3 linked regions of the Homo sapiens genome follow. The protein of the gene in region 2 interacts with the protein of the main gene of each other region in a biochemical or structural test. Each region holds a gene or a part of one and is shown on either strand. Other genes may lie near its edges.

Region 1 (3,652 bases), on a different chromosome or scaffold from region 2:
ATGCTTTGTTTCCAGAATATTCCAAAAGTTAGATCGCTGGCCAAAATATTCAGAGTGGAGGCTGGGCGTGGTGGCTCACTCCTATAATCCCAGCACTTTGGGAGGCGGAGGCAGGCCAATTGCTTGAGTCCGGGAGTTTGAGACCAGCCTGGGCAACATAGTGAGGACCTATCTTCACTAAAAGTGCAAAAATTAGCCAGGTGTGGTGGTGCACACCTGTAGCCCACCTACTTGGGAGGCTGAGGTAGAAGAATTACCTGAGCCTGGGAAGTTGAGGCTGAGTGAGCCGTGATCACACTACTGTGCTCCAGCCTGGGCAACAGAGTGAGACCCTGTCAAAAAAAAAAAAAAAAAAAAAAAAAACGAAACAAAAAATCACCTGATGAAATAAATATTCAGAGTGGGAAGAGCTTGTGCTGAAAGCACTTAACGTGGGTAGCGCTCCCAGGGGGTGAGGCCAGAGGGGTCCTAGGCTTCCTAAAGAACGCATCATGATTCCCTGCCTTCCACCTCCCCTAGATCATTGCCTACCAGCCCTATGGGAAGTCTGTCGATTGGTGGTCCTTTGGAGTTCTGCTGTATGAGATGTTGGCAGGACAGGTAAGGGAAGGTGGGGAGAAGCTGGCTTGGCTAAAAGAGACAGAGAGGGGCACCTGGATCTCAGGAGGAGCCAGTTAGAAAGGAGCCCAGAAGGTTGTGCTCGAATAGCGCTGTCCATGGTTCTGAAGTGTTGTCTTAATGTAGACCAGGTGTTTTGTTTTGTTTTGTTTTGTTTGTTCTGTTACCATGGATTCTTTCTCCCTAGATGGTAAAGTAGCAGTCTGGTTAAGCCTATGGATCCCTTCTCAGAAGAATGTTTTTCAATGCACAAAATAGAATAATACATACGCAGAAAACCAAGGTTCAAATCCTCACTTTGCCACTTACTGGCTGTGTCAGCTTAGACAATTACATACATTCTAAATCAGCTTGATTGGATTCCTGGACTGCTGAGTGTACTACAACTAAAAAAATTGGTTACCACACTCTTGATCATCTTCTTAGCTGGCTATGGTAGTGGGCACCTATAGTCCCAGCTACTGGGGAGGCTGAGGCAGGAGGGTCACATGAGCCCAAGAACTCAAGGTTACACTGAACTATGAGTATGCCACTGTGTTCCAGCACAGGCGACAGAGCAAGACCCCATCTCAAAAGAACAAACAAACAAAAGAAATCAATCATTTTGAAAGATAGTCACCAAAACTTTTAAAATTTAATTGAATCTAACAACCAACTAAATTCAATGTATACAGTTGTCTAAATATTTAAAATTGGAAAATGGACATATGTGCAATTTCTTATTAATTCATTAAGTAGTAAGTTCTAATGGTAGTAAAGTAAAAAGGAGCTCTAACAGTAATTTTGATGTAGCAATGACTAATAATTTGGAATATCTGCAACTCTCATGTGATGAGAAAATACCTGTGATTACTATTGATAATGAAGCCACAAGCACTGCTGCTGCCTGCATTCATAACTGAAGGGAATGCTAAATTTTAGTTAGAAGTTAAAAAAAAATTTGGCCGGACATGGTGGCTCACGCCTGTAATCCAAGCACTTTGGGAGGCCGAAGTGGGCAGATCACTTGAGGTCAGGAGTTTGAGACCAGCCTGGCCAATATGATGAAACCCCATCTCTAAATCTTTGCCTTGGTATCATTTTTTGTAACCTCAGAAGACTGTGAACTACTCATCCAACCAGGAGAATGCTTTTAGGGTGTTTCCTGCAGTTTTTCCTCTCTTCTATTTAACTGACATGTTGCATAATTAACAGCCTGCTGATTTACATAGCAGATAAAGAGAGGCAGAATAGTACAGAGATGCACAGATCTGAGGCATCCGAGATAGGAAATGAGAGAACCTGAGAAGGAGAGAGATCAAGCTTTGGTGGTTTGGTCTGATCTCTCCTGAGGGTGTGGTCAGGTGTGCATGTGGGGCGTGTGATGGGTCAGGCATGTTCCCGGTGGGGTGAGGAGGGTGTGGAAGGTTTGGGGAAAGGCAGTTGGGCATGTCCCTGACTCTCTATCCCCTCCACTTTGATAGCCTCCCTTCGATGGGGAGGACGAGGAGGAGCTGTTTCAGGCCATCATGGAACAAACTGTCACCTACCCCAAGTCGCTTTCCCGGGAAGCCGTGGCCATCTGCAAGGGGGTGAGAGCCCCCTGACTCCCAGCTTCTCCAGGCTCACAACCACACACCCCATTGCTGTCTCTGTGCCTATTAGAAAAATGCTCCCATTCCTGAAGTCACTTTACTTCCATCTGTTGGAAAAGTTGATATGATGCATAGGTTTTGTTAGAACAATGATTTCCAGCCCTGTTGCCACGAGGCCTGGAGATGGCCTCTGTCTCATCCTTCTCTGTGACTCCCACTCCCCAGCTCCCTGCTTGCAGGAAGTGCTGAAAGTCCAGGGTGTCTGTCTGTCTAGAACTGGGTGGGTCAGGTAAACCCAACTTCTGCAGCTTTTCTTCCTGTGTGAACTTGGGTGAGTCACCAAAACTTTGTGAGCTTAACTCTCTTCAGGGGTTATGGAGTTGACACAGAAGAAAGCACCTGGCCCATAGCAGATTTTCAGCCCATGTCAGCACCTTCTGCGTCTAGCTGCTCTCTCTGCATCTCCCTGACAGTCTCTCTGGTTTCTGTCTCATGCCTCCCCTCCATCTGCATACGATGGGGCTCTCTGTGTTTCTTCCTTTTCTCTGTGTCTCCTTCTGCATCTCTGTCTACACTTTTGGGCCTTTGTCCAACCCCCCTACCCCCCATCTCTGTCCCCTCCTGTGTCCACTCTCATACACACACGCTACATCTCACCCTCCTCTCCTGCTGGCTTTCTGTCCTCCCTTTTCTCTGGGTCTCTGTCCCCATATTTGGTCTTTATTCCTCCCTCTGGGTGTGTGTTTCCTGGGTCTCTATCCTTCTCTCTTTCTGAATCTCTGTCCCCCTGGGTCTCCTCTGTCTCCTCCCTTCTCTGAGTTTCTGCCTTCTTACCTGGGGTCTCTGTACCACCCTCTGAATTTCTATTTCCCCTTTTCTCTGGGTCTGCAACCTCTCTTCCCCCATTCCCTCCCTCTTCCCCTTCATCTCCTCTACCCTTCCCTCCCTCCCCCTACCGACCTCCCTCTGTCCTTCACTCTCCCCTTCCCTCCCTCCCCCTACCCTTCCCTCTCCCCGTCCCTCTCTCCCCTTCCCTCTCTCCCCCTACCCCTTTTCCCTCTCCTCTTCTCCATCTCCCTCATGATTTGTTCTGTTTCTCTGTGTGTCCCTGGGTCTCTGGGTATGAATTTCATCTGCTATCATTTTCATGTATCCTCTCCTTCTTCCTGTCTCTCTCTCTCTCTCTCTCACTCACTCTCACCCTCTGTCTCTCTCTCTCTCTGTCCCTCTTCCTCTCTCTCTCCTCTCTGTCTCTCTCTGTCTCGCTCTCTGTCTGTCTCCCTCCTCCTCCTCCTCCCTCCTCCTCCTCCTCCTCCTCCTCCTCCTCCTCCTCCTCCTCCTTCTTCTTCTTCTTCTTCTTCTTCTTCTTCTTCTTTTCTTCTCTCTCTCTCTCCTTTCTTTTCCCTTCCTCCCTCCATTTGCCTGTTTCCCCTGGCTGTTCTTATCTCTCCGGATCTCAT
Region 2 (3,652 bases):
AAGGAAAAGTTAAGGCTCTTAACACACACAGAATACTTACCATTGGCAAAGGTTCTTCTCCATCCATCAAACGCCTGATGTTATTTACAATTTCACGCACATCAAAGTTGGGGATTTTGCAGGACCACCCAGTACCGATTCCTTCAGCACCATTTATCAGCACCATGGGAATAATAGGAATGTACCATTCAGGCTCAACACGCTGGTTGTCATCATATAAAAACTTCAACGTGTGATCATCTTTTGGTGGAAATAACAATCGAGCCAAAGAGCTAAAGAAAAGAAACAAAGAATGTTATTTTACAAAAATACTGAATTTCACACTTAACTTTTATGGAAAGGACATGTATTATACATGAAAATTATCTTGGTTTTACTTGCTGACTAATATACATTTAACAATATTTATTGAGCACTTGCTATGTGTCACGCACATGGACATAAAGTCTCAATCCTCAAGGAGCTCACAGTCCAGTAGAAGTTTGCAATTAACACATATTTTGTTAGGTGGTGGGATAAACAAGAGAAGAAAAAGTGGGAAAGTGACTGAAGAGGTGCTAAGGAAAGTTAAGCCGTTTCTGATAGGAAAACATTTGAGCAGAGAAAAGACACTGAGGGCGCCAGGTGCAGTAACTCGCGCCTGTAATCCCAGCACTTTGGGAGGCTGAGGGAGGCAGATCACCTGAGGTCAGGAGTTCAAGACCAACCTGGCCAACATGGTGAAACCTCATCTCTACTAAAAATATAAAATTAGCTGAGCATGGTGGCGTGTACCTGTAATCCCAGCAACACGGGAGGCTGAGGCAGGAGAATCACTTGAACCCAGGAGGCAGAGGTTGCAATGAGCCGAAATTGCGCCACTGCACTCCAGCCTGGGCAAAAAGAGCAAAACTCCATCTCAAAAGAAAAAAAAACAACAAAAAACAAACTGAGGGACTGAACCATGTGGATATCTAGAGAAAGAGTGTTGCAGGCAAAGGAACCAGTAAGTAAAAGGCCCTGAAGAGGAAATGTGCTCGGTATATTTGAGTATAGGCCAAGGACAGTGTGGCTGGAGAGGAGATGGTATGAGAAGGAATCAAAAGACATGGAAGGTGGGGACACGGATCACATAATGTCTGGTTAGCTAAAATAGGTCTTTAGATTTTACTCTGAGCAGTTGAAGGTTCTGAATCAGAGTGACTTATTTTTTAAAAAATAATTGGCTGCTTTAAGAAAAGATGATATGTTACAATAGTTTAGATGAGATGGGGGTGGCTTAGTATTTTTCCAATGCAGATCCTATAGGATTGGCTGAGGAACTGGATGTTAAGTATCAAGCAAAGGAGTCAAGGGTGACAAGGTTTTTAGCCTGAGCAATTAGAAGGATGGCATGGCATTCCATTTACTGAGACAGGAAAACTAAGGATTTGGTTTTAGACTTATGTTTGAGATACTTAACTAGATATCCAAGTGGGAAATGTTAAGAGGGCAGTCAGACATAAAAGTTGGGAGTTCAGGGGAGAGACCAAGACTGGAGATTTAAAGGTATAGAACGGATGAATGGGAGATCATTTGGGAATTGAGTGTAGGCATTGGAAAGAGATCTGATGAAGGAGCCCTGGAATGGGCCAGTATTTAGAGGTTGGGAAGGTGAGAAGGACCCAGCAGAGAAAGCTAATAAGGTAGAAGAGAACCAGAAGAGTCTACAGTCATAGAGGCCAAATAAAGAGTTTCAAGAAGGATGGAGCAATTAGTAACTGTTTGAATGCCACTGAAAGGGTGACTGGGATGACAGCTGAAAATTGACCATTCATAATATACTTTCCATAGGCTTGTAAAGGAGTAAAATTTCAATTGTGATATTTAGGAAGAATCAAAGTCTCCTTTACTCAGTCCCAAGCTCTACATCAGGATTTCTCAACCTTAGCATAATTGACATGTTGCACTGGATAATTGTTATGGGGGGGCTTTCCTGTATAAGCCTCACCCCTGGCCTCTGCCACTAGATGCCAGTATCTTCTGATTAACTGAGTTTTTGTATTTTTGGTGAACTAAATCTCACATTGTTTCAAAACTGGAAATGGCAAGTCACTAGAAAGTGAAAGCATACCTACCTGAGCATTGTAAAGATGTATCGTGGACTAGCAGAATCCTTGCCACCATGTAGCCTGGTACCAAACTGACCAATGGGCTGCAAGAGGTTTAGATTATTGCTACCCACAAAATTCTGAGCCAAATTGATAATGGTCATCATTAGTGACATCTGTGGGGAAAAAAAGATTCATTAAGCTGAGGCTTTTACTAATACAAATACATTATGACTTAACCTCACTATAATCCTGTAACATTTTGTGAGGTCTAGTTGTTTAGTGACTTTCCTCAGATTAATAGATGGCAGAAATAGTACTTGAACCTACAACTTCTGGCTCCAAGTTTAGGGCTGCCGTCCAACAATTTCTATTAAATCCCACTCAACTTTGAAGGCATAGTTCTTCTCCTTATCCTCAGCAAAATGAAATATTTCCTCCTTTGTGTTACAATGCTGTGTTCATTTCTATTCTAGCATGTATCACTTTATTCTATAGCTGTGTGTGTATTGGCCCTCTGGCTAAATTGTTATTATATCTTGGGGATAAGGAACATATTTTTATTTATTTTTGTATACCTGGTACATGGTAGGCATTCAACAAATGTTCGTTGGGTGAAAATTTATTGTATCCCTACTATATTTTGATTGAAAGCAACAAGACAACCATTATATTTAAAATTCTAGAAACCTGTAGGCAATCTAGTTCTTTAAAACTGTTTTACATAATTAATGCAAAAAGTAATCACAAAACATTGGTGTAAAGTCAAACAATTCAGACACATATAAAAAGTGAAAGTTGCCCTTTCCAGTTCTCAGGGGTAACTAAAGTGAACAATTTGGAACATATCCTTGTAGACATTTTTAGTTATTGTTCTGTCTCTTTTTTTCCTCACCTGAGAATAGACCCTGGATATTCCTCAGTGTCAGTGCACACAGTTTTACTGAAGTTACAGCACTGATTCCATGCATACATGTGTCACAATTTATTATAACAATTTTCAAATCAGTGGAGGTCTAAATTTTGACATCACAAAGTTATAATAAACATACTAAGCATTTTTTAATGTAGACCTTTGCAGACTTATGAATATCCCTGCAGGAATATTACTTTCAGAAATCAAAGGGCAAGCAGTTTTATTCTTTCACAGGTTTTACCAACTTGTTCTTTACTATGAATATATGAGCTTATACTTTCACCAAATCTGTTTTGAGAATGACTCTGCAGGGATTTCTGATATAATGCTTTCTGGAAACATGGATTGTGTGTTTACCTCACCATGATGATAAGAAGACATTTCAGCCACTGATCCAGCTAATTGGGCAACCTTTACTTCTCGCTTGTCATTCCGTTTGAAGCAAGTAAACAAAACCTTTCTCTGACCTGGTTTCAAACCTTTAAAATGAAATAAGAGCAAACGTAAGTATCCTCAATTTAACCAATTTTGGAATTTGATTTCCATCTTACAATGAAAACAGACTAACAAATTGGAACTCACCATCCACCATAGAAGGGATAGATCTCTCGTTATCAGAATTTGAGAACAAGATAAGTTCCTTGTTGATGAAGTCATTATATGTCAG
Region 3 (3,652 bases), on a different chromosome or scaffold from region 2:
AAATTTCTTCAGACTTTTGCTAATTTGTACAGCTAGAGCAGATAATTTTACAGATAATTTTTAAAAATCGCATCCCAAAACTAATGCAAGGTTATCTGATTTCAACATCTTTTTTTTTTTTTTTTTTTTTTTGGAGACAGAGTCTTGCCCTATCGCCAGGCTGGAGTGAAGTGGTGCAATCTCAGCTCACTGCAACCTCCACCTCCCGGGTACAAACAGTTCTCCTGCCTCAGCCTCCTGAGTAGCTGGGATTACAGGCACCCACTACCACACCCGGTTAATTTTTGTATTTTTAGTAGAGACAAGGTTTCACCATGTTGGCCAAGCTGATCTCAAACTCCTGACCTCGTAATCCGCCCGCCTCAGCCTCCCAAAGTGCTGGGATTACAGGCGTGAGCCACCGCGCCCGGCCAATTTCAACATCTTAATTATTGAATTGTTTTAGAATATCATCTTATGAAACTTACACATCAGACTGGTTTTGTTCATACAAAGCTTTCATCTCCTCCAGAACTTGTCTGAGTCCATCCTCCTAGAACATATAAACCGATATTGAAATCCACTGATTTCCCCACCAATTCTGTGGCAATATGCTATCAATACTGAACTGTATCTTTCATTTATATACTTTAGCAAAAAGCAATAGTCCTTTCACACCCCACTAGCATGGTTATAACAAGTGTTGGTGAGATGCGGAGAAACTGGAACCCTCGTACATTGCTGGTGGGAATGTAAAACGGTATAGCCCTGTGGGCAAAAACTTGACAGTTCCTCAAAAGCTACACACAGAATTACCATATGACTCAGTAATTTTACTCCTAGGTGTATATATATACTCAAGAAAACAGAAAACACATGTTTTTTGCAGCATTATTCATAACAATAAAAATGTAGAAACAACCCAAACGTCCATCAAATGATAGATGGATAAACCTTCCACTTATCTGAAAAATCTAATATAATAAAAAGAATGGGTCAAGGGTGGTGGCTCATGCCTGTAATCCCAGCGCTTTGGAAGGCTGAGGCGGGTGGATCACCTGAGGTCAGAAGTTCAAAACCAGCCTGGTCAACATGGTGAAACCCCGTCTCTCCTAAATATACAAAAATTAGCCAGGCGTGGTGACAGGCTGTAATCCCAGCTATTCAGGAGGCTGAGGCAGGGGAAATCGCTTGAACCCGGGTTGCAATGAGCCAAGATCATGCCATTGCACTCCAGCCTGAGCAACAAGAGCGAAACTTCGTCTCAAAGAAAAAAAAAAAAAAAATGAACTACTGACAACATACACAACAATGAGGATAATCTGAAATACGTTATACTGAGCAAGAGATGCCTGACACAAGAGTTTACATGAAATGATTCCCTCTGGCCCTTCACAGGAAAAGTTTGCCAAAAAGAATAATATCATCTGTAGTCAGAGAAAGCAAATTCATGGTTGCCTAAGGCTATAGGTGGGAGGTAGCTACAAAAGGGGGGCAAAGTTACAGAAATCTTTTTTAATTTTTTTATTTTTGTGGGTACACAGTAGGTATGTATATTTATGGGTTATATGAGATATTTTGATAATTACAGAAATCTTGATCAGGGTGCTGGTTATAAAGATGTACATATTAGTCAAAATTCAAAAATCTATTAAAATACACATGTTGTATGTAAATTATACATCAATAAAATTGACGAACAAAGATATCAATCGTCCTACTGAAGCATGAGGTATAAAGAAAAATATGTAAATAATTCATAATTTACTAAAAAATGGTCTTTTTTTTTAGATGGAGTCTCACACTGTCGCCTGGGCTGGAGTGCAATGGTGCAATCTCGGCTCACTGCAACCTCTGCCTCCTGGGTTCAAGCAATTCTCCTGTCTCAGCCTCCCGAGTAGCTGGGATTACAGGCGCCCACCACCACGCCTGGCTAATTTTTTGTATTTTTAGTAGAGACGGGGTTTCACTATATTGGCCAGGCTGGTCTTGAACTCCTGACCTCGGGTGATCCACCCGCCTCAGCCTCCCAAAGTGCTGGGATTACAGGGATGAGCCACTGGGCCCAGCTTAAAAGTGATCTTAAAAGGTTAATACCAAAAGAAAGAAAAAGGAATAGTGTTTTTGGTTTGCACTGCAAAAACCGGCCATAGGAGTTTTTCTAGTATCCAGTTTCGGGCAAATTTTCCCTTGGAAAAATAAAACATTAGAATTCTGATTTTTTTCGTTGTTGTTGAGATGAAGTCTCACTCTGTGGCCCAGGTTGGAGTGCAGTAGTGCGATCTCAGCTCACTGCAACCTCTGCCTCCCAGGTTTAAGTGATTCTCTTGCCTCAGCCTCTCGAGTAGCTGGGACTACAGGTGTGCACCAGCAATGCCCAGCTAATTTTTTTTTTTTTTGAGACGGAGTTTTGTTCTTGTCACCCAGGCTGGAGTACAATGGTGCAATCTTGGCTCACTGCAACCTCCGTCTCCCGGGTCCAAGCAATGATTCTCCTGCCTTAGCCTCTCAAGTAGCTGGGATTACAGGTGCCCATCACGTCCAGCTAATTTTTGTATTTTTAGTAGAGACAGGGTTTCACCATGTTCACCAGGTTGGTCTCGAACTCCTGACCTCAGGCAATCCACCCACCTCAGCCTCCCAAAGTGCTAGGATTACAGGTGTAAGCCACCAAGTCTGGCTAATTTTTGTAATCTTTTTTTTTTTGGTAGAGACAGGGTTTCGCCATGTTGGCCACACTGCTCTCAAACTCCTGACCTCAAGTGATCCGCCTGCCATGGTCTCCCAAAGTGCTGCGAGTACAGGCAGGAGCCACCGTGTCCAGCCCAAAATGATTAAATGTTACCCAATAGGTCTGCCAACAATCGAAAGAGAAGCAATCCCATCTCTTTTTCACTGTCTATTTTTAGGGCCAAAATATATGTGTTGGCAAAAATGCTGTGGCATATACAAATGGCACAATTCCAAAATCAACTACTCAACTCTGCTCAAAAGATGTAATTCCTGATGGAAAATGCAAGCATGACTTCTACCTGAGCCCAAGGTAATTTTCTTACCTTTTCCTTTTTGAGACAGGGATTCAGTCTGTCACCCAGGCTGGAGTGTAATAGCGTGACCACAGTTCACTGCAGTTTCAACTTCCTGGAGCCATGCAATCCTCTCACTTCAGCCTCCTAAGTTGCTGGGACTACAGGTGTGTGCCACCACACCCAGCTAATTCTATTTTTTGTAAAAATGGGGTCTCACTATGTTGCCCAGGCTAGTCTCGAACTCCTGGGCTCAAGTGTTCCTTCCACCTTGACCTCCCAAAGTGGTGGCTGGGATTACAGGCATGAGCCACCATGCTTGGCCTAACTTTCTTAAAAATGTACTTTTTAAAAAAAGTATCAATTCTGCATATAGAAAGGGTGTAATCACTTTTCTGTTTGCTGAACACAGCGCTTAACCATGAGTGATTCCAGAAGAAAAGCCTGTGTGTTGGGCCGGGCACGGTGGCTCACGCCTATAATCCCAGCACTTTGGGAGGCTGAGGTGGGTGGATCGCCTGAGGTCAGGAGTTCGAGACCAGCCCGGCCAAAATAGTGAAACCCCATCTCTACTAAAAATACATAAAATTATCTGGGCATGGTGGCAGGCGCCTGTAATCCCAGCTACTAGGGAAGCTGAGGCAGGA

Evidence for each region.
Region 1: of the proteins of TOP2A (region 2) and PRKCG, one has a biochemical effect on the other in vitro, tested with the Homo sapiens proteins (one study listed by BioGRID).
Region 3: the proteins of TOP2A (region 2) and GINS1 form a complex in vitro, tested with the Homo sapiens proteins (one study listed by BioGRID).

What each region holds. Positions count from the first base shown.
Region 1 is NC_000019.10:53,902,554-53,906,205, forward strand, and holds part of PRKCG (protein kinase C gamma type), read left to right. Parts: intron 1-519; coding exon 520-600; intron 601-2,081; coding exon 2,082-2,189; intron 2,190-3,652. UniProt on the Homo sapiens protein: Calcium-activated, phospholipid- and diacylglycerol (DAG)-dependent serine/threonine-protein kinase that plays diverse roles in neuronal cells and eye tissues, such as regulation of the neuronal receptors GRIA4/GLUR4 and GRIN1/NMDAR1, modulation of receptors and neuronal functions related to sensitivity to opiates, pain and alcohol, mediation of synaptic function and cell survival after ischemia, and inhibition of gap junction activity after oxidative stress.
Region 2 is NC_000017.11:40,400,810-40,404,461, forward strand, and holds part of TOP2A (DNA topoisomerase 2-alpha), read right to left. Parts: coding exon 3,568-3,652; intron 3,465-3,567; coding exon 3,343-3,464; intron 2,246-3,342; coding exon 2,097-2,245; intron 273-2,096; coding exon 41-272; intron 1-40. UniProt on the Homo sapiens protein: Key decatenating enzyme that alters DNA topology by binding to two double-stranded DNA molecules, generating a double-stranded break in one of the strands, passing the intact strand through the broken strand, and religating the broken strand.
Region 3 is NC_000020.11:25,410,670-25,414,321, reverse strand, and holds part of GINS1 (DNA replication complex GINS protein PSF1), read right to left. Parts: intron 3,206-3,652; exon of another isoform or gene 3,036-3,205; intron 533-3,035; coding exon 468-532; intron 1-467. UniProt on the Homo sapiens protein: Required for correct functioning of the GINS complex, a complex that plays an essential role in the initiation of DNA replication, and progression of DNA replication forks.